Linked DNA regions of Homo sapiens. The protein of the gene in region 6 interacts with the protein of the main gene of each other region in a pairwise test. Each region holds a gene or a part of one and is shown on either strand. Other genes may lie near its edges.

The links.
Region 1: the proteins of MGST3 (region 6) and CACNG1 interact in binary tests that used the Homo sapiens proteins (3 or more experiments, as listed by UniProt).
Region 2: the proteins of MGST3 (region 6) and PLP1 interact in binary tests that used the Homo sapiens proteins (3 or more experiments, as listed by UniProt).
Region 3: the proteins of MGST3 (region 6) and AQP1 interact in binary tests that used the Homo sapiens proteins (3 or more experiments, as listed by UniProt).
Region 4: the proteins of MGST3 (region 6) and PLN interact in binary tests that used the Homo sapiens proteins (3 or more experiments, as listed by UniProt).
Region 5: the proteins of MGST3 (region 6) and TMEM120B interact in binary tests that used the Homo sapiens proteins (3 or more experiments, as listed by UniProt).
Region 7: the proteins of MGST3 (region 6) and ITGAM interact in binary tests that used the Homo sapiens proteins (3 or more experiments, as listed by UniProt).

The regions. Positions count from the first base shown.
Region 1 is NC_000017.11:67,047,554-67,051,053, forward strand, and holds part of CACNG1 (voltage-dependent calcium channel gamma-1 subunit), read left to right. Parts: intron 1-3,500. UniProt on the Homo sapiens protein: Regulatory subunit of the voltage-gated calcium channel that gives rise to L-type calcium currents in skeletal muscle. Regulates channel inactivation kinetics.
Region 2 is NC_000023.11:103,783,340-103,786,839, reverse strand, and holds part of PLP1 (myelin proteolipid protein), read right to left. Parts: intron 1,259-3,500; coding exon 1,072-1,258; intron 376-1,071; coding exon 114-375; intron 1-113.
Region 3 is NC_000007.14:30,918,353-30,921,852, forward strand, and holds part of AQP1 (aquaporin-1), read left to right. Parts: intron 1-3,500. UniProt on the Homo sapiens protein: Forms a water channel that facilitates the transport of water across cell membranes, playing a crucial role in water homeostasis in various tissues.
Region 4 is NC_000006.12:118,554,796-118,558,295, forward strand, and holds part of PLN (phospholamban), read left to right. Parts: intron 1-3,500. UniProt on the Homo sapiens protein: Reversibly inhibits the activity of ATP2A2/SERCA2 in cardiac sarcoplasmic reticulum by decreasing the apparent affinity of the ATPase for Ca(2+).
Region 5 is NC_000012.12:121,775,252-121,778,751, forward strand, and holds part of TMEM120B (transmembrane protein 120B), read left to right. Parts: intron 1-357; coding exon 358-471; 3' UTR 472-3,500. UniProt on the Homo sapiens protein: Necessary for efficient adipogenesis. Does not show ion channel activity.
Region 6 is NC_000001.11:165,651,734-165,655,233, forward strand, and holds part of MGST3 (glutathione S-transferase 3, mitochondrial), read left to right. Parts: intron 1-244; coding exon 245-302; intron 303-2,545; coding exon 2,546-2,618; intron 2,619-3,500. UniProt on the Homo sapiens protein: Displays both glutathione S-transferase and glutathione peroxidase activities toward oxyeicosanoids, as part of cellular detoxification as well as synthesis of bioactive metabolites.
Region 7 is NC_000016.10:31,322,475-31,325,974, forward strand, and holds part of ITGAM (integrin alpha-M isoform 2 precursor), read left to right. Parts: intron 1-1,924; coding exon 1,925-2,079; intron 2,080-2,176; coding exon 2,177-2,308; intron 2,309-2,483; coding exon 2,484-2,557; intron 2,558-2,788; coding exon 2,789-2,930; intron 2,931-3,025; coding exon 3,026-3,148; intron 3,149-3,500.

The DNA.
Region 1 (3,500 bases), on a different chromosome or scaffold from region 6:
GTCTGGTGATTCCCTGAAAACCCCCACTTGAGAAGCTGTTTCTGTTTGACCTGACTCTGAGCTCATCCAGTGCAAATAGTCTTTCTCCCTGGGGATGTTTGTTGAAAATAATTAGAGATGATTGATTAACATCATGGCTGTCTGAGGCAGTAGATAACAGTTAGGGAAAACAACAGGCTAACCAAAAAACTGGAGACTGAAATGTCCATAAGTTGCTTTGAAAAGCTCCAACATATTCCTGGGAATCTAGGAGGCCACATGCATGCACAATGCTATATGCATGCTCAGGAAAGACCTGAGAAGGCCCTAAGCACTCTCTGCCTTATCTTGAGACTCTGTTCAAGCAGGAAGTGAAGGCTAAGGCAGAGATGTGGGTGGCTTAGCTGAGCATGAAAGTCATATGCACAGAGCCCCTCAGTAAAGACTGGGAGAGGCATTGTTGCCAAGCGTTTTAGGAAATTTATAATTGGTCACTAAGCTAATTGAACAGGGATCTCAGTGATCACACATGACAAAAAACACATACTTTACCATCTTAGTTCAAAAAAGTCACTAAACAAACAACGGGAACAAATCTTCAAGAAGGGGGAACAACTGATTTCCAGAGTTGCCACATTATATTGTTTAAAAAATACTGGCTGGGTGTGGTGGCTCACTCCTGTATTCCCAGCACTTTTGGAGGCCAAGTGAGAGGACTGCTTGAGGCCAGGGGTTTGAGATCAACCTGGGCAATATAGCAAGACCCTGTCCCTACCAAAAAAAAAAAAAAAAACAAAAAAAAAACCCCACAAAATATCCAGGAGTGGTGGCATGTGCCTGTAATTCTAGCTACTCCCAAGGCTTAGGTGAGGGAATTGTTTGATCCCAGGAGTTAGAGACTACAGTGAACTATGATCATGCCACTGCACTCCAGCCTGGGTGACAGAGCAAGACTCTGTCTCTAAATAAATAAATACATACATAAATAATACAAGACACACAAAGAACTAAAATGATAAGGGGCATACATGGGGCAGGGAGAAGTCAATAGATCTGTAAGGAAGCCAGATATTGGACTTACTAGACAAAAACTTTAAATCAGCTATAGTAAATATATCCAAAGAAAAAACAATCAAAACAATTAAAGATGAAAATGATGCCTCATGAAATAGAAACTATCAATTAAGACACAGAAATTATTTTTAAGGACAAAATAGAAATTCTGGAGTTGAAAAGTACAATAACTAAAATGAGAAATTCACTAGAGGGGCTCAATGGCATATCTGAGCAGGCAAAAGAATCAGTGACCTTTAAGATAAGTCAGTTGAGATTAGCCAGTCTGAGGAACAGACAGATAAAAAGAATAAAGAAAAATGACGAGAGCCTCGGAGACTTATGGGACACCATCAAGTTTATGTAAAGGGAGTCCCAGAAGGAGAGGGAAAGAGAGAAAGGAGCAAAAAAGGTATGTGAAAAATAATGTCCAAAAGCTTCCCAAATTGGATGAAAAACGTTAAAAATCGACAAATTTATGAAGCTTAATGAACTCCAGGTAGAATAAACTCTAAGGGATCCACATCTAGACACATGATAATCAAACTGTTGAAAGATAGAGACAGAGAATCTTAAAAACGGAAAGAAACAACTCACCACATATGAGGAATCCTTAATAAGATGAACAGCCAATTTTTCCCCAAATCTATGGAGGCCAGAAGGTGGTGGGATGACATACATATATTAGCTCACCTAATCCTCACAGAAACCTCCGTGAAGGCCATGCTATTATCATCATCCCAATCTTACAGATAAAGAAAATCAACCACTGAGAGTTGAGATATTTGACAAGGTAACACAGGTGATGAGCAGAGCAGCCAGGACTCACACTCAGACCCTAACATTCACCGTTTTAGTCAATACATTAACTACTTTACAACAACCCAGTGAGTGGGTTCTTATTCTACAGGTGGTTCTTATTCTACAGGTGGGTCTCATTCTACAGGTGGTTCTCATTCTACAGGTGGTTCCTATTCTACAGGTGGTTCTCATTCTACAGGTGGGTCTCATTCTACAGGTAGGAACAGGGAGGCTGAGCATAGCCTTCCCCAGGCTAACCAGCTAACAAATAGAGGTTCTCCACTCAAGTCTTGAATCCAGAGCCTCCTTTCCCTCCAGTTCCTTCTCACACCCTCTATTGTGCATGAAAACACAGCTCCTAAAAGCTCTGACCCAAGTGAACACAAGGAGTCCAGCTTTTGACATGGCATAGTTTGAGGGCAGCTGGACCAGAAGCTGGTGCAGTGGAGCAGACTTCTCAAGGTCCCACTTAGTCTTAAAATGTTGGAGGCTCAGTGGGCAAGAGTTGTCTAATTTTTCCAAATTAGACAGTCTTAGACTCCAAACAGTCTTAGAAGGACTTCCATGTACAAGATCAACATCCAAGACCAATTCCAATGCCTCCAGAATGAGAGTAGGAGCCTCTCCCAAAGGAGAGACTATGTGTTCTGAAAGTCCAAATGAACCCGCAAAGAGGCCATCCCCTGCCCTTGGGCTGGGTGAAGTGCTGCTTCTTTCAGACTCTGCCTCTTTAGGGCAAGGAGGCAGGTTGCCCCAGGGCCCACTTTGCCTAGTGCCCCATTTTCCCTACTGGTCCATCTTCTCTCAGTGCGGGAACTGGGATTGTATAAAAGAGCATGATACTACTGACCCCAGGAATTTCATGGGCTCACTTCACCACCCACAGAAGTCCATGCCAGAGGCCTAGGCCAAAGCCAGGCTTCTCCCATGGAAGAGCAGTGCTCTGAAGCTCTAGGGTCAGGTCTTGGAGATTTCCAGCCCATTTTATAAAATTCTTCAATCAGAGATGTGGAAGGAGACACAGCCCAGAGAAACCACTGTTGGGAGCTGATAGAACTTCTTTTACCAAAAGGCTAAAAACAACACTGACATCAATGCAAGTTAGAGGCTTCCTTGCACCCCTAAAGTACCAGTTTCTTTGGTTTTGGACAAATCCACAAAGTATCTTTGAATATATGAAAGTCTCCATGGACAGTCACTTGGCACACTGATACATTCTCAGTGATAACCCAAGGCATCCACTAATCCTGCCAGCTGTTCCAACTATCAAAGAAAGATCCCTATTAACTCAAGTTCAGCTTGGAGCTAAATGTGGCTTCTGCTCTAATTCTTTGAAACTGGCACACTACACATGGTTCTGCACAGTTACTGATGCCCTTAACCAGAACACTGGGTTAGCCAGACTATTCCATCCCCCAGTCAAGTCTGAGAGCTGAGTTCACCATATTTTTAATAAATAACCCATTTAATATTTTTAAACCGCTGAGTCTTACAGAAATAAGGAGATTAAAATCAGCATAAGCCATCTGCAGAGACAAAGGAGAATGGCACGACCTCAGAGTTCCTAACACCCCAGATCATCATCCTGGCATTGGAATCTTTGCTGACTTAGTCGGAAGCAAAGCTGCAATCCCTGAGCTTTGTGTAAGTGTGATGGAAGCCAGGGC
Region 2 (3,500 bases), on a different chromosome or scaffold from region 6:
TCAAATGCCAGGCCCCTAGAGAGGACCCAGCCTTGGGTGGGGACGAGGCCACAGACTCGCGCCCAATTTTCCCCCACCCCTTGTTATTGCCACAAAATCCTGAGGATGATCACCTTGTCGGGATGTCCTAGCCATTTTCCCAAACAATGACACACCCGCTCCAAAGAATGAGCTTGATGTTGGCCTCTGGAACCCCTCCCCTTCTGGCCCCCTGTTACCGTTGCGCTCAGGCCCTTGCCGCAGATGGTGGTCTTGTAGTCGCCAAAGATCTGCCTGACTGCGCCGGTGGTGTAGAAGCCCTCAGCCAGCAGGAGGGCCCCATAAAGGAAGAAGAAAGAGGCAGTTCCATAGATGACATACTGGAAGGCATGGATCCTGCATTAACAGGTAGACAAACGAGACCAGGGAATCTTATTAATTGAAGACCTGGCTTCTTTCCCGACATAAGTGAGGTATACACCAGAGCGAGCACCTTAACAAGGCTAGGGATTTTCTAGAGGAATCACCAGGTTCCTCCTGCATGCTTTCACCTTATCTTTGTTGAAATAAGTGAAGACAGGGTGTATGTGACCAGAAACATATGCCCCTCCCGCCACACCTTGCTTACCCTGGGACCTGGAGAACCAGGGACCTACTCTCCCTGCCCCACCCTTCAGACATGCTAACTCACAGGAGTAGGGAGCTAGACAAGAAGAAAGGTGGGTGAAGGAACAGGAGCCTAACTTGTTCTAGGAACAGGAGAGGCTTAGTGCCTCCCTTGGCTTCTCCATACCTACTACGCTGGAGGCTCCAACTTGGGCAATATGAACCACACCTAGCAGAAGTCAGAACACGTGTAAGAAAACAAGGGGGCGGGGGTGGGAGGGGCTGACAGGCAGGCAGGCAGACCCCTCCTTTCTGAATGGGCTTCGAATGTGGAGCAGGAGAGATCTGCACAGAGGGAAGACTCGGGAATCCGGTCTGGCTCCACCCCAGTCCCCTGCTAGTTACTAAGGTACTGAAGAGTTCTCTATCTCCAGGATGGAGAGAGGGAAAAAAAAGATGGGTCTGTGTGGGAGGGCAGGTACTTACACATTGATGAGATACTCATAGTCTTGGTAGTTTTTGGAGAAATAGGTCTCAATTAGCTTTTCTGTGCCAGTGAGGGCTTCATGTCCACAGCCACAGAACAGTGCCACCCCAAAGAAACACAATCCAGTGGCCACCAGGGAAGCAAAGGGGGCCCCTACCAGACATCTTGCACAGCACTCTAACAAGCCTGGGGAAGAAGAAGGGGAAACAGTCAGGCACATCCAGTAGGTAGCTCATGCCACTCAAACCCCTCTGCCAGGCCCTGTGCTCACAGGCTCGGAGATAGTGGGCACTCCGAAGTCAAAAAGCAGGAGCGGCTAGAGGTTTTGGCTTTCAGCATGTGAGATTGACCCAGAATCCTTACTTTGTTTCATTCTTGAAAATAAATCTTTGGCCGGGCACGGTGGCTCATGCCTGTAATCCCAGCACTTTGGGAGGCTGAGGCAGGTGGATCACATGAGGTCAGGAGTTCAAGACCAGCCTGGCCAACATGGCAAAACCCCGTCTCTACTAAAAATACAAAAATTAGCCGGGCATGGGCGTATGCCTGTAATCCCAGCTACTCAGGAGGCTGAGACAGGAGAATCTGTTAAACCCAGGAGGAGGCGGAGGTTGCCGTGAGCCAAGATTGCGCCATTGTACTCCAGCCTGGGCAGTAAGAGCGAGACTCTGTCTCAAGAAAAAAAAAAAGAAAGAAAGAAAATAAATCCTTACCTTTTATTGCCAGAATTTAAAAAATATTTAATAAATAATAATAATTCAGCAATTCAAATAGCAAGCCAGAGAGATTATGAAATCAGTCCCTTCTTTCTTATTGTTCTAGTCTGTTTGTTTGCTTGCTTATTTTAGTCATTCATCAACTATTTATGGAATACTCACTATATGCCCAGCATTATGCTGGGTGTTATACGGGATATGAAGAGAGAAAAGACACAGACTCTGCCATATGGGAGTCTTTAATTTCCTGAGGAAGAATTAGCTAAGTAGACCTAATATTTTCAACTAACAATTCAGGCAGCCAAGTAAGTGGTAACAGAGGGTAAATGCACTTGGAGTTCCAGGAAGGGATGAGTGCAGGCCAGAGATGCTGGTATTGTCAGACAGGATTTTAGCATGAAGAGCATTCCAGGTGGAGGAAACTTTGGAAATTGGATGCTCCTGGACATTTTTGAGCATCGTGTGTATTTGTTGCAAAGAATGCTTGATTCTTCTTAGTTTACATATGGGAGGAGCAGTCCAAACAGGATGGAGCTAGCACAGGACAAGAAATGAAAATTGGAAAATAGGAGGTTTGATATTACTCCCAATAATAAAAATGCAGGCTTAATGATTTTGGACACTTTGTATGGCAGTTTTGTCCTCCTATAATGCAGCTTGGCTAATGTCCCCACCCTCAGTTATACGCTGAGATTCTGTCAAAACAGCTACAAACAGACTTTATACAAAGTCAGCAAAGCATGAAACATCTTTCTGGCACTAGAGGAACACACCAGGGCCTGGGAACACATGTGTCTTAAAGTGCTAAGAGTCCCTGAGATCCCCAGACCTGGTATCCCAGGCCCTATGCCAGTGTTGCTGAGAAACAGGAGAGGCACACAAGAAGTCACAGGCTCTGAAAGCAGCTGTGTTCCAAGTACTAGTCCCATGCTCTAAGATGTCATATGGAGTGAACCTTAGCAAATGCCAAGTAGATGACTGACTAGATGAGGAAAAGAATGGCTTCCTCTGGCCTCTCGGCCAGATCCCTAAAATGTAGAAGAAATGAGAATGTTAAGCTCTTCAGAAAAAATGTCTTAATTCATATGTATGTATATATATAAATATATGTATATATACCCACTGATTTTATATATCTATAAACACAGTATACACATGCACACACACAAATACTCAGCAAATGTACTGGGAAGCTGCTATTTTTGAATAAGCAGGTTGTGACAGCTTGTACAATAAAAATAAATTGTATTAATTACTTAGGCTTGGATTTTTGTATTCAAGCATTTCTCCAAGCCACACTCACTTTTCTATAGGGTACCAGGGAAAGGGGACTCCTTTTCCTGATTCTGTTAACATTAGTTACAGTTTGTTTTTAGCCCAGAGAGCATGAATACCTAGTGATTTACATGGCTGAATTGCATCAGTGTGAACAGATTTGGAAAGATCAAATTATCTCTGTCATGGGAAAATCGAGGTAGAGGCATTTGCCTCTGTTCTCAGAGACACAAAAGGAGTGAGTCCTATTACCCACCATCCCCTGAAATGACAGCCCTTTCTTGGCCTTCAAAGAGTGTCACACCAAAGATGAGCCTCAGAAGCCCAAGCCAAACAAAGTAAGCAGCTAACATTTGGAGCAGAACTTCCTTTTCCAAGAACTAAAGCATTGCTGCCAGGAAACTTGGCCTCTATAAGAAGCAATCTGTAGCTGTGCT
Region 3 (3,500 bases), on a different chromosome or scaffold from region 6:
AAAAGAGAAAGAGGGAGTCAGCCCTGGACACATGTGGTCATCACAGACACAGCAGACACTTATCTACAAAGACACACAGAGGCACACAAAACCAGGAATCCCCCCATGTCCACGTGTGAACACCCATGGAGGAGTGACACTCTGGAGCCCACATAGGTCCCCTCACTGCCCAGTGCTGAGTCTTGGAGGCACTGGGGTGGGCAGGGCAGGCCTCGATGTCTCCTATCCCTTGAGAACGAAAGCTCAGAGCCTCAGTCAGGCCTGGCTCTGGAGCCTGCTCTTCCCCAAGGCCAGGGCACCAGGGTGCCCAGGCCAAGTCAGGGGCCCCATGCCTTGGAAGCCACCCTGGTTGGCCTGTCTATGGGTAGCAGGGAGTGCTTAGAGCACATTGCCTGGAGAGATCATCCCTGGGCTGCCCTAGAGCCAGGACACACTGGCAGCCACAGAACCACCTTCTGCCAGCTCCCAAGTCCAAGCTGGGAATAGCCAGGTCCCTTGACTGGGCCTAGGAGTGGCCAGCCCATTGACCTGTGAGTGTAGGGTGGCACAGACTATGGGGCAAGGATCCTGGCTTTGCTGCATCCTCCCTGGGCCTCAGCCTCTGCGTCATCATCTCACTGAGCCATCGCACAGGCTGCCCTCTAGGGCTCCCAGAGGCTAATGATTGGCCCATTGTTTCCCAGCTAGAAAGTGAAGAAGACCGCCCTGGGTCCGGAGAGCATCTCTGGAGCCAGGCTGCCCCTAGCAAGGGTGGGAGTTCTAGAAAATTAGCATTCTCTGCCACTTCTATCAGCACACAGTAAGCCTCCCCTCAGAGGCGTGGGCAGAGAAATGGCAGAGGTCCCCCACTCTGTCTTCACCGAGCTCCCAGGCCAGGAGGAGATGCACCCACATAGGCCGCAGGAAGATTGATTTCCTACAAGATGCACAGAGAATTCAGTGAGGGCATGGTGGGTGGGAGCAGAAGTTAATTCCAGCCAGGGATCTGGGAAGGCTTCTAGGAGCTGGTGGGGTCTGAACTGGGCCTTGAGTAGTGGGCTTACAAGGGCTTAGCACAAAATGGAGAGCTTGTATCTTTCTGACACTTCAGAAGAAATGTGTGGATTATTCTTTCGGTAATACTTGCATTCACAAAACCCAGGGCTGCAGACAAAAGCGGGAAGACAATTGAGAATTGAGAATTGAGAATTGTTCTGATTCTTACTTTTTTTTTTTTTTTTTTGCCTTAATAAGACCTGGGCCAGGCAAAACTACCTGGGGATGTGCAAATATATATGTACATATATATAAAACAAGTGACTACAATGGGAACTGTCCTTGTTTAAGCAAGTTTTCAAATTTAATGGGTTGTAAACAGTAACGTACATTTGAAGTATTTTACCTGCTCTTTCCTGGACATTGAGTTTCAACAGGCCTTTGAGTGCCCCTTCCAATTCTGAATTATCAAGTGTTTCCAGATGTAAATAATGCAAGTGTATTAGATAGTTGAAGGAAGGTTGTCAGTAGATGTTGAAGCTATCAGGGGAGGCTTCCTGGTGGTAGTGGTAGTGGGTATTGGAGAGGAAGGCTGTCAGCCCATGTGGTTCTCAGCAGTCACGAAGGCACATTCCAGAATTCCCAGGGCAGGTGGCTGACCCCTCCCCTTCCCAAGGACTCAGAGTACAGGGCCTGGAACTATCACCCTCTGCTCTGCCCACTTTGCATGAAAAGCATGTTGTCTTTGGGTAGGGGCTGGGGCTCTCGCACCTGGTTAAGAACCAGAGGAGATGAGCTCTTTCTGGTCACATCTGTGAGGGATGGGGCTGGGAGGGTTCTCCAAGGCGGGAGCCACTTACAGCGATGACTCCATTAATCATCGGGGAAGGGCTGGTTTCAGGACTTCTGCCAGCTAGCAATTAGGCCAACCCTGGAGAGCAGAAGAGAGAGGAATAGAAGGAGCCACGAGCTTCCTGAGGGCTCAGATACAGAGGGACAGGGGCCTCACAGGTGCAAGTGTGGGTGGGCATCAGGACTAGCCGGGCTGGCCTCACCAGCCTCAACCCCATTCAGCCTGTCCTAACTCTGGGCAGGCTTCTGCCAGCAGCTCCACCCGCCGTCACTCCTTCTGCCTGTCCCCAGATCCTGCACACACAATGAGAAGAACCAAAACAAGAGTCACTACCACTGCCCCATCCCTCCTGCGTCGACAACTCTTTCCAAAAGCCCTGAGACGGCCCCTTTGGCCTTTGAACCTCCCAGCTGCTCTGGAGAGCAGGCACGGACAATGAGATCCATTTTGCAGATGGGAAGACTGAAGACCAGAGGGAATAGGCCATGCTCATGGTGCCAGAAAGTAGAAGAGTCAGAACCTGAACACAGGGCTTCTGCCTCTTTGGCCCAACCTTGGGACAGAAAGGGAACTGGGCATTGGCCAGAGGGCTGGCGGACCTAAGGGATGTAGCCCTGGGGTCCGCCAGGAAAGGCCCAAAGCTGGGGCTGCAAGGCAGGGGAGGGGATGTGAGTCATTCCCTGTAACCCAGGGCTGCAGACAAAGGCGGGAAGAGAATTGTTCTTGTAGGATGGCCTCAGGGTGGGGCTGGGAAAACCTCCAAGGTGTGCCCCCCTACCTTGGATTTTGCAAAATTCTCTATGGCCTTGGAGACACTCCCATATCCTGAGGATGGGAGCTGGGTAGTTTGTCTCCCAGCTGGGAAGTGTTTGGGTGCACCAGCCCTGCCTGGGAGAAGGCAGCCTAAGTGGCCTCAAGTGGGCATCTTTGCAAGTGAGCCTTTGCTGATGTGGTCCATCTCCCCTGTGTGAGTGCACTTAGCCCCTGGGACGGCCACAAAGCATAGTGGAAGGTGCTGGGGCTTCCTGGGGAGGGGTCCTCCGGGGGCAGCTGCATGGGGAGGGCCTTCATGACCTCACAGCAGCTTCCATTCCCTTCTCTTTCCATGAGTCATGTTTCTAAAAGTGGCCCAGGAGTAAGTGGCAGCCAGACGGTGGTGGCGGGGCCTATCTGGCCAGGCAGAGGGAGGGTGAGGCTGAGGCCAGCAGTGGGGAGGAAGAAGAGAGAAGGAGAGACAGGGAGGGCAGGGCCAGAAGCAATGGGAGACAGGCCTTGGACCAAGGAAAGAGACGGGGTGGAGAAGGAGAGAGAGAGGGTGGAGACAATAGGGAGGCAGGCACAGAGGAGAAAGAGGGGTGGAGGGAGCCAGGACCTCACCGAAGGCCTCCTCAGCCCTGGAATTTAGATGCAGTCGGGCATGGGGTGGAATGTTCTGGACTTTTGGGTATGAAGCCGTGTCCCCTGCTGGGCCTTCCCACCTTTTTGCATCTCTTCTCCTAGGAGTGCTCCTGACCATCACCTTCATGCCTGGGGCTCGCCCCTTGCCTCTGGTCTTGGTACCCCAGAATACCCTGGCCTGGATGCAGCTGGATGCAAAGGCCCCAGCTCACCCCAGGCCTCTCCAGCTTCTAGGCAGAGTGGGGCCTGGGTCTAGGCAGGTATTAGGGGCTGG
Region 4 (3,500 bases), on a different chromosome or scaffold from region 6:
TCAAAAGGTGGAGAACACATTCCAGGCAGAGATAGAACAACATGTGCAAAGAACAAAATCACAAAAGGGAATGGAGTATTTATGGAAAGGTGACATGTTTCATGTGACTGAAGTACAACTTACCAGTGTCAACGTAGGGGATGACTCCTGTATATGCTTCATGATAAACTCCTGGCCAACTCCCTCCTTTCCCATGTTTTGTCTCAAAATAATTTTTAAAATTTCTGACCTTTTAAGACCACTTAAGCCCAAAAACCTCACAAAACCATATGTTCAAATAGGAATTACCAAGTCTAATTATTATTCCTTTCTTAACTGTATTCTGCTACACATCTTCATAAAAGGTGACTACTCGGCCAGGTGCAGTGGCTCACGCCTGCAATCCCAGCACTTTGGGAGGCCGAGGCGGGTGGATCACGAGGTCGGGAGATCGAGACCATCCTGGCTAACATGGTGAAACCCCGTCTCTACTAAAAACACAAAAAAATTAGGCATGGTGGCGGGCACCTGTAGTCCCAGCTACTCGGGAGGCTAAGGCAGGAGAATGGCGTGAACCCGGGAGGTGGAGCTTGCAGTGAGCCGAGATCGTGCCACTGCACTCCAGCCTGGGCAACACAGCAAGACTGTCTCAAAAAAAAAAAAAAAAAGTGACTACTCAAATATAAATAAAATCTTCCCATAATTTTCCAATCCACTAGATCTACAATAAGCAAATATCAACATAAGCAAATATCAACATAAGCAACTTAAAGGATGAATCTCAATAAAGAACAAAAGAAAATCTATTTATATTTTACCTGAAGAATTCAAACAAAAGTCATTAAATATATGTCAAGTTTAAGCTGCTATGTCCCTTATTTTTAACTTTTGTTTTAAGTTTGGGGGTATGTGTGAAGGTTTGTTACACAGGTAAACACATGTCATGGGGAGCTTGTTGTATGTATTACTTCATCATCCCGTTATTAAGCCCAGTACCCAACAGTTTTCTGCTCCTCTGCCTCCTCCCATCCTCCCCGCTCAAGTAGACCCCAGCGTCTGTTGTTTCCTTCTTTGTGTTCATAAGTTCTTATCATCTTGCTCCCACCTGTAAGTGAGAACCTGTGGTATTTGGTTTTCTTTTCCTATGTTAGTTTGCTAGGGATAATGACCTCCAGCTCCATCCATGTTCCCGCAAAAGACATGATATCATTCTTTTTTATGGCTGCATAGTATTGCATGGTGTATATGTACCACATTTTCTTTATCCAGTCTGTCACTGATGAGCACTTAGGCCGGTTCATGTCTTTGCTATTGTGAATAGTGCTGCAATGAATATTCATGGGTGTATGTCTTTACGGCAGAAAGATTTACACTCCTCTGGATATATACCCAGTAATGGGATTGTTGGGTCGAATGGTAGTTCTGCTTTTATAAGCTGCTATTTTCTAAGTAGAAGTGTTATAGACAACCTAAATAACAGCCTTTAGCCACCTGTTTAGACAATGAAGAATATATGCTAGAAAAATACAGGTAGTTAATAACTCTTTAAGGAAAGAAAATTTGATAGAAGTTGAGTGTTTGGAACTCCTTGCTACAGACCAATATTATGAAGGGGGACAGAGTCTCAAGCCAAAAATGCCCAGTCTACTATATAATTCAGAATATAATAGACCCAAGTTGAACACTACAGAATCTAAACACCATAAACCATATGGTTTCTTTGCCAAAGTAAATGCCGGGTTCTAACTAGTCATGCCTGATACTTACCTTCCCCTTTGCCATTCTTTCAGCACTTCCTTCTGCTCCCTTCAGCACTTTCCTCTCTCAGGAATGGGCTAACAGGTTGAGATGGGCTTTTATGGGATGTATAAAAGGACTTAGGAGAAAATAAAATCTGACACCTGGGGTAAGGTAGTAATATGTTGATTAACAATAATATATCAACAAATGTTAACAGTCACTATGTCTGGCAGTTAATTACTGACTTTTTTTCTCCGTTTTTCATTTTTCTTATTTCAAAATTGACACATAAGTATACTGATTGAAAACAAAATGTCCCCAAGTGTTAATAACGATTATCTCTGGACAGTTAATACAGTTAATTTTCAGTCTATATATAATTTTTCTGTAATGACATGTAAATTCTTATTTTATTAATCATCAAAGTATAGGCCCCACAGGCAGCAATAGCTTGTGGGATCTCTGAAAGAAGGCATGATGGAAACTACTACTATTAAGTAGAAGTCTGTAAATAGGATATGTCTGTGGTAGTGAGATAATAATAATTACTATGTGTTCCAAGCTTGACAGTCTTCAGTACTTAACATCAAATCTTATTAAAATGTTACTTAAGATAACATTCTATAAAACTATAAAATCATAAAAAGGAATAACAATTTGAATCTATATTTTTGGTAAAACACTTCCCATTTAACACTATTTTATTTTAGATTAAAATTAAGATCCAGGGAACAATTTGTTGTATGCATTTCCTTTTTATGAGATTGGCTCTGGAGCTATTAATACAGTGACTGATCAAACCAATTACATCTACAGAGTAACAGATTTAAAGAAACTATATGTTAGAACTTTTACCCAAAAGAATAACCCAAAACAAGCTGTACCTTAAACCAAATACAGCAGGTCCTCAAATAACATCATTTCTATGTCATTTTGTTATAACATTTAAGTATGTGTGGGGCTTGCATATTCTCCCCACATCTGTGGGACTCTGGTTTCCTCCCATATCCCAAAACAGTGCACATTAGGTTCACTGGCATGTTTAAGTTGTCCTGGGTTGAGTGTGAGTGTGTACATGAGTGTATCCTGTGATGGAGTGGCCTCCTATCCAAGGTGGGTTCCTCCCTCCTTGAGCTGCTGGGATTGGCTCCAGCCACCAGCACCCCAAACCAGAATAAGAGGGTTGAAAAATGAATGAATGGATGAATACAAATTATTATCGAATAAAAATTGGTAAAGTCTACGGTGATCATACAAATGCATGACAATAAACGCTATGGCACAAAAGCACTCAGAGATCCCACCGTATTTGAATTGTTTTTGATCTGCATGGAGCTGGATGTGCTCCTGACAATTTTCATTTCTCAAACATGATTCCATGTTTTTAATAGACCACCACAACCACTGTTACTCACTGATTCACCAAATACTGGGTAATTATCTTTGTTGGCTTTTTTTTTTTTTTCCTGGGACAGAGTTTTGCTCTGTCACCCAGGCTGGAGTACAGTGGCATGATCTGGGCTCAATGCAACCCCTGCCTCCTGGGCTCCAGCGATCCTCCCAAGTAGCTAGGATTACAGGCACATGCCACCAGCCTAGCTAATTTTTATATTTTTAGTAGAGACAGGGTTTCACCATGTTGGCCAGGCTGGTCTCAAACTCCTGACCTCAGGGGAACTGCCCGCCTTGGCCTCCCAAAGTGCTGGGATTACAGGCATGAGCCACTGCACCTGGCCTATCTGGTTTTTATTAATCTTTCTTAAATGTATACATAGTTCATA
Region 5 (3,500 bases), on a different chromosome or scaffold from region 6:
GGGTGGGGTGTGTGCGTGTGTGTGGTGTGCTGTGGGGAGGTTCCTGGGGCGGGCTGGGCTGGCAGGTGTGGGGTGTTGTGGGGGGCCTGCTTGGCGGGAGGCTTCTGGAAGGGCTAGGGGTGGAGCCTCTCCCAATCTGTGGATCCCAAGGAGGTTCGCCCCATCGAGCCCTTCCCAGGCCCTGCCCAAGCCTGAGGCCTCACCCTTCCCCCAGGTCTCCTGAATCTCTGCCTTCGATGGCAAAACCCTGCAGTTTGGGAGTTTGGGGGCAGCTGTGCTGGAGATTCTGGGGTGCTGGGGGCAGGGGTTCAGCAGGGCAGATGCCCCAGCCTCGCCCTCCTCTCTGGACTCCCCCAGGTGTTCGTACTGGCGTTCACCTTCCTCATCCTCTTCCTCGGCAACTTCCTGACCACGCTCAAAGTCGTGCATGCCAAGCTCCAGAAGAACAGAGGCAAGACAAAGCAGCCGTGAGCCTCGGGCTCCTGTGCCCTCGGCCCGGACTTCAGACTGCAGGGGGCTCCCGGGCTCCTTCCCAGCAGCCCTCTCAGGCCCGTGGCATCGCTGGGAGAGGGCCCAGGCCCTGGTCCCCCAGTGGACCCCAGTGGTCTAGAGGAATGTGAGCCCCGCCTGTCCGCACAGTGTCCGCCCACCTATTTATGACATATTTAATGCTGGGTCCCCCATCGTCCCTGGAACCCGAGGCCTCACTCCTGTGCTTGAAGGTGGCTGAGGCCGGGCCAGTCTTCCTGGGGATGGGGCCTGAAGCCTCAGGGAGCCCCTCTGTTCCCACTCCTGTCATTTGAACCCCTCTGGGTGGGGTTTGGATGTGCCTCGCGGGGTTGGATTTATGCTGACCTGCTACTTACCAGGCCCAGGCTGGGGTGGTGTGAACCCTCAGTGTCCTGTGGCGCCCCCACCCCGGGGCCACTCTGCTTCTGCTGTGAGCCCCCTCCTCGCCCACCCCGCCACGTGGTGAGGGTTATTTTAAGTTCTCAGAGACCCACCGCGTCTGCCTCGTGCTCTTCTTGCCCCTGGAGCGCTGGGGGCATCCTGAGTCAGGCTGTGAGAAGATTCGCCACCAGAGGGCGCCCCGGGCCCTGGGTCGTCCAAGGGGACAAGGACGTTCCCGTCTGTGCTTCGGGGTTCCCTGACCCCCCCATCCTGCAGCCCACCTTCCTGCAGTGTCGTGGCAGGTACTTGGAGAGTGGGACCAAGACCCTTGGCCCCTGTGGAGGGGAACCACCTCCCCCCTCCTTCCCAGAGCTTCTGGATGTTGTGGGAGGGAGGTGGGGGTGCCTGGCAGGCTCACCCCCAGGGGCCGCACCCTGAGGCGGGGTCAGAGCCACTGGGCATCGCTTGGGTGAGATTCTGCATTCGACGGGAGGCAGAGAGGCCACCAGGTTTGGCTGAGTGCTCTGCCCCACCATTCATATATGGGCCTCAGCTCCCCCTAACTGTGGCCCTACAAATCCCTAGGCCAGACCTCACAGCAGTGCCCACAGGCATGCCTTGTTTAGCCCTCCTCAAGGAATTTTAAAATTTTTAATTACTTTTTTTTTTTTTGAGACAGGGTCTGTTGCCTAGGCGGGAGTGCAGTGGCATCATAGGTCACTGTAGCCTCCGCCTCCAGGGCTCAAGGGATCCTCCCACCTCAGCCTCTGGAGTAGCTGGGACCACAATCACACACCACCATGCCCTGCTCCTTTTTTTTTTTTTTTTTTGAGATGGGAGTCTCGATCTGTTACCCAGGCTGGAGTGCAGTGACACAATCTCAGCTCACTGCAACCTCTGCCTCCCAGGTTCAAGTGATTCTCCTGCCTCAGCCTCCCGAGTAACTGGGACTACAGGCGCGTGCCACCATGCCTGGCTTTTGTTTTGTTTTGTTTTGTTTTGTATTTTTAGTAGAGACAGGGTTTCACCATGTTTGCCAGGATAGTCTCGATCTCTTGACCTTGTGATCTGCCTGCCTCAGCCTCCCAAAGTGCTGGGATTACAGGTGTGAGCCACCATGCCTGGTCACCCTGCTACTTTTTAATACTTTTTAGTAGAGATGGGGTCTCACTATGTTGCCCAGGCTGGTCTCCAACTCATGGGCTCAACTCATCCTCCTATCTTGGCCTCCCAAAGCGCTGGGATTACAGGTGTGAGCCACTGTGCCTGGCCTGATTACATTTTTAAAATGAGATTTCCCCACCCCTACAGTGAGATTCCACATAAAAATCCAGATTTCTGCTTTCCCTAGAAAAACGGACCTGGCAACATTCCCGTGGCACAGGACGCCTACTCTCCAGTTGCCACAGGCCCTGCCACCCCCCTGCCCTTCATTCTGGTCTCCTTTCTGGTCCTTTTTAGGCACCTGCGTTTGCCCTAGATTAGGAGTCAGCTAGCTGTCTGTAAAGGGCCAGATGGCAACTATTTTGAGCTTTATGGGCCAGGTGGTTTGTGGCAGCTACTCTTCACCTGCAGCCCCAGAGCACAAGGCAATGCAGAAAGGAATGGGTGTTGCTGTGTTCCAATAAAACTTTATTTACAAATCAGGCTGTGGCCAGATGTGGCCCACAGGCTGTAGTTGTTGGACCTCTACCGTAGACCATCATGAGGCCTGGGGTTCTTCGAGAACAAGAACTCCTTGGTTGATTCCCCAGGGTACGGCAGGGCCTTGGGAACCTGGGTGGGTTGGGGAGGGTCTCAGAAGGCTCCTTCCTTTGGCAACCTGACTTCTTGGAAGCTCAGGTTTAGCTGACGCCCCAGCACTGGGCCAGGGGGGCTGAGGCAGGAGATATGGGGAAGGCTAGGAGTTGCCTGAAGCCATTATCCCATCTTAGGCGACACCGACTCCTAGGCGCCCTCCAGAGCCAAGCAGCTTGCGACTTCTGGTAGGCACCGGAATCCCCTGGGATGCTTGTTTTAAAAGTCCTGGGCCGGGCACGGTGGCTCACGCCTGTAATCCCAGCACTTTGGGAGGCTAAGGCGGGTGGATCACGAGGTCAGGAGTTCAAGACCAGCCTGGCCAACATGGTGAAACCCTGTCTCTACTAAAAATACAAAAATTAGCCGGACGTGGTGGTGTGCGCATGTAGTCCCAGCTACTCAGGAGGCTGAGGCAAGAGAATCGCTTGAACCCAGGAGGTGGAGCTTGCAGTGAGCCAAGATCATGCCACTGCACTCTAGCCTGAGTGACAGAATGAGACTCTGTCCCAAAAAAAAAAAAAAAAAAAAATTCCCAGACCCTCGGCCCCAGACCTTCCCAAAGGAGGCTCAGGGATTAGGTATCTGGCTGTTGGTGACACAGGTGGTCTATGAACCAGTTCTGAGAAACTGTCCCGCGTGGACAGGGGGTAGATCCCATCAGTTCTCAAAGGAGGCCAGGATGTCTCGCCTCCTGAACTCCACAGGCTGGTAGAAGCGGGGCTTGAGGGACAGCAGGTTGGGAGCTTGAGGACTAAGTGGGCCAGTCCTGTCCTACCACAGTGGGGGGAACAGTCCACAGAAAACTTGCT
Region 6 (3,500 bases):
TCTCTACAAAACTTAGCCAGGCATGGTGGCACGCACCTGTAATCCCAGCTACTCAGGAAGCTGAGGCATGAGAATTACTTGAACCCGGGAGGCGGAGGTTGCAGTGAGCTGAGATCATGCCACTGCATTCCAGCCTGGGTGACAGAGACACTCCGTCTCAAAAAAAAAAAAAAAAAAATTCATAATTCTACACAGGCATACTTAAAAAGGGCACTTTTTAAAAGTTTCTTTCTGTCAATTCCAGGTTGGAAGTGTATCCTCCCTTCTTATTTTTTCTAGCTGTTGGAGGTGTTTACCACCCGGTAAGTTTTCCAGGAGGTGTTCATCTATTTGGATAGTAGTTCACTGAGCTATTATCAGGGACAGAAGAAGGAAATAAACATTTAATGAATATCTTCAGTGTCTAGGCACTGCATATTTAAAAGGATTTTATTCAATTATTTCTTACAGAGTTCTTTAAAGGAGATGGGATTTTCCTCATATTTTACAGATAAGGAAAAGCCTCTCATATACTATTTAAACTTCACAAGGTCAAATAGCTACAGAGTAGAAGGATTAGAATTTGAACTCAGGTCTGTCTGGTTCTAAGTTTCATGTCTATAAGAGTTCATTTGTTATAGTAATTCATTCACACAACAAACTTTCACTCACCACCTGGGGTAAAGCAGTGATCAAAGCAGACAAAGACCCCTGGTTTCATAGAGCTTGCCTTTTTGTTGTGGGGTGTGGGGTGGTCACAGAGAAGAAGCAACCTAAGTAAATTACATCATGTGTTAGGAGGTGGTGAGTGCAGAGAAGAAAACAAAGTGGGGAAGGTGGAAAGGGGATGTGGAGTGGGATAATTTTGAATAGGGTGGTCAGGGAGGGGGGCTTTGCTGAGATGATAGTTAAGCAAGTATAAAAGGAGGTGAGGGAGCAGGTGCTGCACGAGTTTCCCCAACCTCCAGCCAGAAGACAAGCAAGGCCTGAGGCAGGCACCTGTCTGGTTTGTTTGGTGAGCAGTGAGAAGCCAATGGAGCCAGGAGAGGGGCAGCAACAGAGGGCAGAGGGGTGATGAGGCAGGTCACTGGGGACTTGCAGGCCTCTGCAGTATAGATAGCCCTGTGGGATGGAGATTTAGTCTGCACTTAAACATATCTAAATAAAGCAAGTTTATCAGCCTCTAATTAATTGCCATTTGGGTCTTGTCTTAGACAGAAGTGTTCCCCTTTTCTGAGGACAGATTATCTCCTGAAACCAAGTTCTGACCAGAGTGGCCCTTCAGACTTCTGGTTCTAAGCCTTTCCTAACCATCTGGTTCATCCTGAATGCCTTGTACTTTTGTTAAAAAGCTGCCAGAATGGCATATCTACTGCTTATGACCTTGAAGGCCTGCATTTTTTTCAAAGAAACATCTACTGCTCTTGTATCTCTTAGAAAATGTATCTTTCTGGTGCCTCTAAAGATCCCCATTCCTAGCAAGTGACTAGACTAGCTGATCTGAATAGCTCAGGTCTCTAGATTAGTCCTCATTTGGTGTCCCCACTCCATCCCCATTCCTATCACACATCCCTGGATCCCATTCCTTATGGGTAGTTCTGAAAAATAAGAGCTAGTTTGGGGACAAGCACCTAACAATTGTTCCTAGGTTGCCAGTCATTAGGCAACATTATAGTAAAGAAGGGCCTGGCAGAGACTAGAGCTGCTATATCGTGACTTGAGGGACTGGTGTTATTTTCATTTGTTTCACCCTCCTGTTGACATTTAATGTTACCCAAAATCAACTCAAACAAACAAAAACCCTGATGCAGTAACCTTATCCCTAACAGTAGCACTGCTGAGTGGGAAAGACACTGGGGAAGGCGGCCTTCTCACATGCTGTCTTCTGTGTTCTCTCCTTGCTTATTTTAACCAAGGAAGTCACCCCAGCATGACAGCCAAAGGGATGGATTTTTCATCTAAGTTTTTATTCTCTCTTCTCAAGGACATTGGGAACAGGGAGACTTTTCCCTCGAAGACCATGTATTCTGGGAGAAGCGCTCCCCTTCTTTCTAGTGGAGCTACACCCCCAGTGTAGCCTGCAGAACCACCTGAGCCCAGCCCTGCCAGTGACTGACTTCACATAGAACAGCAGCTGAGTCTTCAGTCAATCTCATGCTCAGAGGCCCATTTGAGAAAACGGCATTTCCCCTAGTCCTGACTTTGGGGCAGTTCTCTTTTCTGGCCTGCCCTGAGACCGGCTGGCCCACATGTCCTTCTCTTGAGCTCTGACACAAGTTCCCCAAGATGCCCAGGGCAAGTGGGGGGATTCCTTCTATCCCACCTGTCTAGGAGAAGGCCAATACTCATCTCCCAGGTCCACAAGCCAAGCCATTCATAGAAGAATCACAGATATTTTATTTTCCCGCTGAAACTAACTTAATTCTACCTAATTTGCGTGGGGAGTAGTTGGCCAAATCATCAAATTGTTAACTTTTTGCTAACATATTGTGTAATCAACCCTAGGTGTTAAAAAAGGTTTGCTTGTTTCTTTCATGCAAATACTAATGTAGCCCTTTTTTCTTAGCGTATAGCTTCTGGCCTGGGCTTGGCCTGGATTGTTGGACGAGTTCTTTATGCTTATGGCTATTACACGGGAGGTTAGTATATATTGACATTTGCCAAGGAAACAACTTTAAAATTTTAAATCCTATGCTGGCCAGGCACAGTGGCTTACACCTGTAATCCCAGCACTTTGGGAGGCGAAGGCAGGCAGATTGCTTGAGCTCAGGAGTTGGATACCAGCCTGGGCAACATGGTGAAACCCTGTCTCTACAAAAAATACAAAAATTAGCCGGATGTGGTGGTGCACACCTGTAGTCCCAGCTACTTGGGAGGCTGAGGCGGGAGGATTGCTTCAGCCCAGAAGTTTCAGGCTGCTGTGAACCATGATTACACTACTACACTCCAGCCTGGGAGACAGAGCAAGATCCTATCTCAAAAAAAAATAAAATCTTATGCTACTATATTTTTTTTCTTGGGAATTTGAGAAAAGGGGAAGTCACCTGATATTTAGGTGAAAGGTCTGTTTTCTTTTTATTAATCTTTCAATTGTAACGAAACTTATTTTTATTGAGCATTTTCTATGTGCCAACCACTACTCTAAGAACTTTGCATATGTTATTTAACCTTACAACAATTCTGTAATACAGATATTATTGCATTTTACAAATTAGGAAACTGGGACTCAGCATGATTAAAGCTGTAGGTCACAGAGCTACTAAGCGTAAACTAGTAAACTAGGAATCAAACCCATGCAGTCCGACTCCAGAGCCTCACCATTACTATACCTCCTATATCTGAGTAAGGAGGAGGAAAAGCCATTTTTAGCTGTACTTCTTTGAAACAGAGGGAACTCCTTCCAAAGGTCCTAGAGCAAAGTTGCTGTAATTATTATCCCATAATTTTCTAAGATCCAAGCAATACTACTGTGGCACGTTACTTGGCATGTGGTATCTGACTTGCCAACAGCTTCAGGCTAA
Region 7 (3,500 bases), on a different chromosome or scaffold from region 6:
ATGCCTAGGTCAGTACTCCAAGACACCCAGTAGAAAACAGCAACTGAAAAGCCAAAGAGCTGATCAGAGAATTCAGCAGCTCCTCAGTGCTGGGGAGACAGAGATTTGAGAGGCCTTGGTAAATACCTTGGTCTTTCCATTGAGACAACTGACTAGCAACCAAGAGAAACAATATACAATAGAAATAGACCCACAGGTGATTCAGAAATTAGAGTGATTGGATAGGAATTTTTAAAAGGTAACTATAATTAATATCTTCAAGAAAAAAGGGAAAGGATGAGAACTTCAGCAAAAACCTGGAATTCATAAAATAGAGTCAAATGGAAACTCTAGAACCAAAAATCGCACTGACTGAAATGAAGAATTCAGTAAATAGATTTATAGCAGATTAGAAGCAGAACAGAGAATTAGTGAACAAGAAGACAGTCATTTGAAAGTATCTGGATAAATATGCGATAAAAAGAAAGAAAAATACAGAAAAACACCATAAGAGATGTGTGGGATATGGTGAAAGATCTAACAAACATGTAATTGGAATTACAGAAAGTGGTGGTGGGGGAGGAGAGAGAGAGAGAGAGAAAGAAAATAGGAAAGATGGAATAGGAAAGACAGAATAGGAAAGATGGAATAGGATGGAATAGGAAAGATGCAGTAGTTAAAGAATTTCCCCAAACTGGCCAGTCACGGTGGCTCACGCCTGTAATCCCAGCACTTTGGGAGGCCGAGGCAGGTGGATCACCTGAGGTCAGGAGTTTGAGACCAGCCTGGCCAACATGGTGAAACCCCATCTCTACTAAAAATACAAAATTAGCAGGTGTGGTGGTATGCGTCTGTAATCCCAGCTACTCAGGAGGCTGAAGCAGGAGAATTGAACCTGGGAGGCGGATGTTGCAGTGAGCTGAGATCGCCCCATTGCACTCCAGTCTGGGTGACAAGAGCGAAACTCCATTTCAAAAAAAAAAAAAAAAATTCCCCAAACTGATGAAAGACATCAAGATTCTTTACAAAATCAAAGCAGGATAAATATGAAGGACATTATATCATTGTACGTTATAATCAAACTGCTGAAGACCAAAGACAAAGAGAAAAAAATTTAAAGTAGTCAGAAAAATACAATAAATTTTTTAGTGAGTGACAGAATAGCTACCATTTATTGAGCACTTATTGTATAAAAGACACTGTGCTAAATACTTGATAAGCACTATTTCATTTCCTTTTTACCATTGGGAGGGTATCATTATTATCCTCACTTTAAAAATAAAGAATGGAGGCCAGGCGCAGTGGCTCATGCCTTTAATCCTAGCGCTTTGGGAGGCTGAGGCAGGTGGATTACTTTGAGACCAGCCTGGCTAACATGGTGAAACCCCATCTCTACTAAAAATACAAAAATTAGCACGGCGTGGTGGCATGTGCCTATAATCCCAGCTACTTGGGAGGCTGAGGCAGGAGAAACGCTTGAACCTGGGAGGCAGAGGTTGCAGTGAGCTGAGATGGCACCACTGCACTCCAGCCTGGGCAAGAGAGTGAGATTCTGTCTCAAAAAAGAAAATAAAAAATAAAAAGAAAGGAAGGAAGGAAGAAGGGAAGGAAGGAAAGGAAGGAAAGTAGGAAAGGAAGGAAAGGAAGAAAAGGAAGGAAGGAAGAAGGGAAGGAAGGAAAGGAAGGAAAGTAGGAAAGGAAGGAAAGGAAGAAAAGGAAGGAAGGAAAGGAAAGGAAAAAAGGAAGGAAGGAAGGAAAGGGAGGAAGAGAGCGAGGAAAGAAAGAAAGAAAGAAAAAGGAAGGAAGGAAGGAAAGAAGACTCAGAGAAGTCAGATAACATACCCCAAGTCACACAGCTGAGAAGCAGAGGAGCTGGGCCTTGAACTCCCATCTGCCGGGTTCCGAGGCTCAGGCCCCTCACTGCTGTGCCACCCTGTCCCTTCAGGACAGATCCAGAGTGTTGTGACTTATGACCTGGCTCTGGACTCCGGCCGCCCACATTCCCGCGCCGTCTTCAATGAGACAAAGAACAGCACACGCAGACAGACACAGGTCTTGGGGCTGACCCAGACTTGTGAGACCCTGAAACTACAGTTGCCGGTGAGCAGGCTAGTGGCCAGACCCCTGGGTCTTCCAAGCATGGAGTGGGCTTGGGGAGCTGAGGAGGGCAGATCCCCAAATCCCGGCTATCTCTTAGAATTGCATCGAGGACCCAGTGAGCCCCATTGTGCTGCGCCTGAACTTCTCTCTGGTGGGAACGCCATTGTCTGCTTTCGGGAACCTCCGGCCAGTGCTGGCGGAGGATGCTCAGAGACTCTTCACAGCCTTGGTGAGTCCAGAGTTGGGGTCCTGCAGGGGTGTGGAAGAGACCAGAGACCAAGGTGGTTGAAACTCATTTTATTTGATTGCATCTAATTTTACTTCAACATTTGATTTTATTGTTTAATTTCACAATACTTGGTTATTTTCTTTCCTTTCATTTGATCATATTTATTTTTTAAAAGTTTCCCTTTGAGAAGAATTGTGGCAATGACAACATCTGCCAGGATGACCTCAGCATCACCTTCAGTTTCATGAGGTGAGTTTCCTTTCCTCCTCACCTCCTCCAGAGAAGGACCCGTACCATGACCCGCTCTTTTCTCCTCCTGGCCCCCAAGGGAGCCGGGTGTTCCTGGGCTATAAGGTCCGGTGTGGCTGCCCCTCCACTGTTGTCTCTTCATCAAGTGTCTGCGTCTCTGTTCTGCTGGAGCAGGCTTGCCACAGGGAAGCCCAGCGCCCCATCCCCCGGCCTGTCTTCTTCTTCCCACAGCCTGGACTGCCTCGTGGTGGGTGGGCCCCGGGAGTTCAACGTGACAGTGACTGTGAGAAATGATGGTGAGGACTCCTACAGGACACAGGTCACCTTCTTCTTCCCGCTTGACCTGTCCTACCGGAAGGTGTCCACGCTCCAGGTAGCCACATCCTTCTCAGGCTCTATCTGACCTTTGCTTCCCCATCCTCACGGCCGGAGGTGGATATCACCGCCTTTGCCTCCCCTGCCTTCCAGAACCAGCGCTCACAGCGATCCTGGCGCCTGGCCTGTGAGTCTGCCTCCTCCACCGAAGTGTCTGGGGCCTTGAAGAGCACCAGCTGCAGCATAAACCACCCCATCTTCCCGGAAAACTCAGAGGTCAGAACTCCTGGCTCCTCCCCTCCTTTTCTCTTTGATTTCTTTGGGGATTCTTTTCTTCTTCTTCTCTTCTTTAGTAGTGGTTCCTTTTTGTACAAAACAGCTTTATTGAGATATAATTCATATACCATCCAATTCACCTATTTAAAGCATACATTTCAAGCCCGGCACAGTGGCTCATGCTTGTAATCATAGCACTTTAGGAGGTCGAGGCAGGAGGATCGCTTGAGCCCGAGAGTTTGAAACCAGCCTGGGTGACACGGCGAGACCCTGTCTCTACAAAAAATGTAAAAATTAGCTGGGCGTGGTGGTGCACACCTGTAGTCCCAGCTACTCGGGAGGCTAGGGTGGG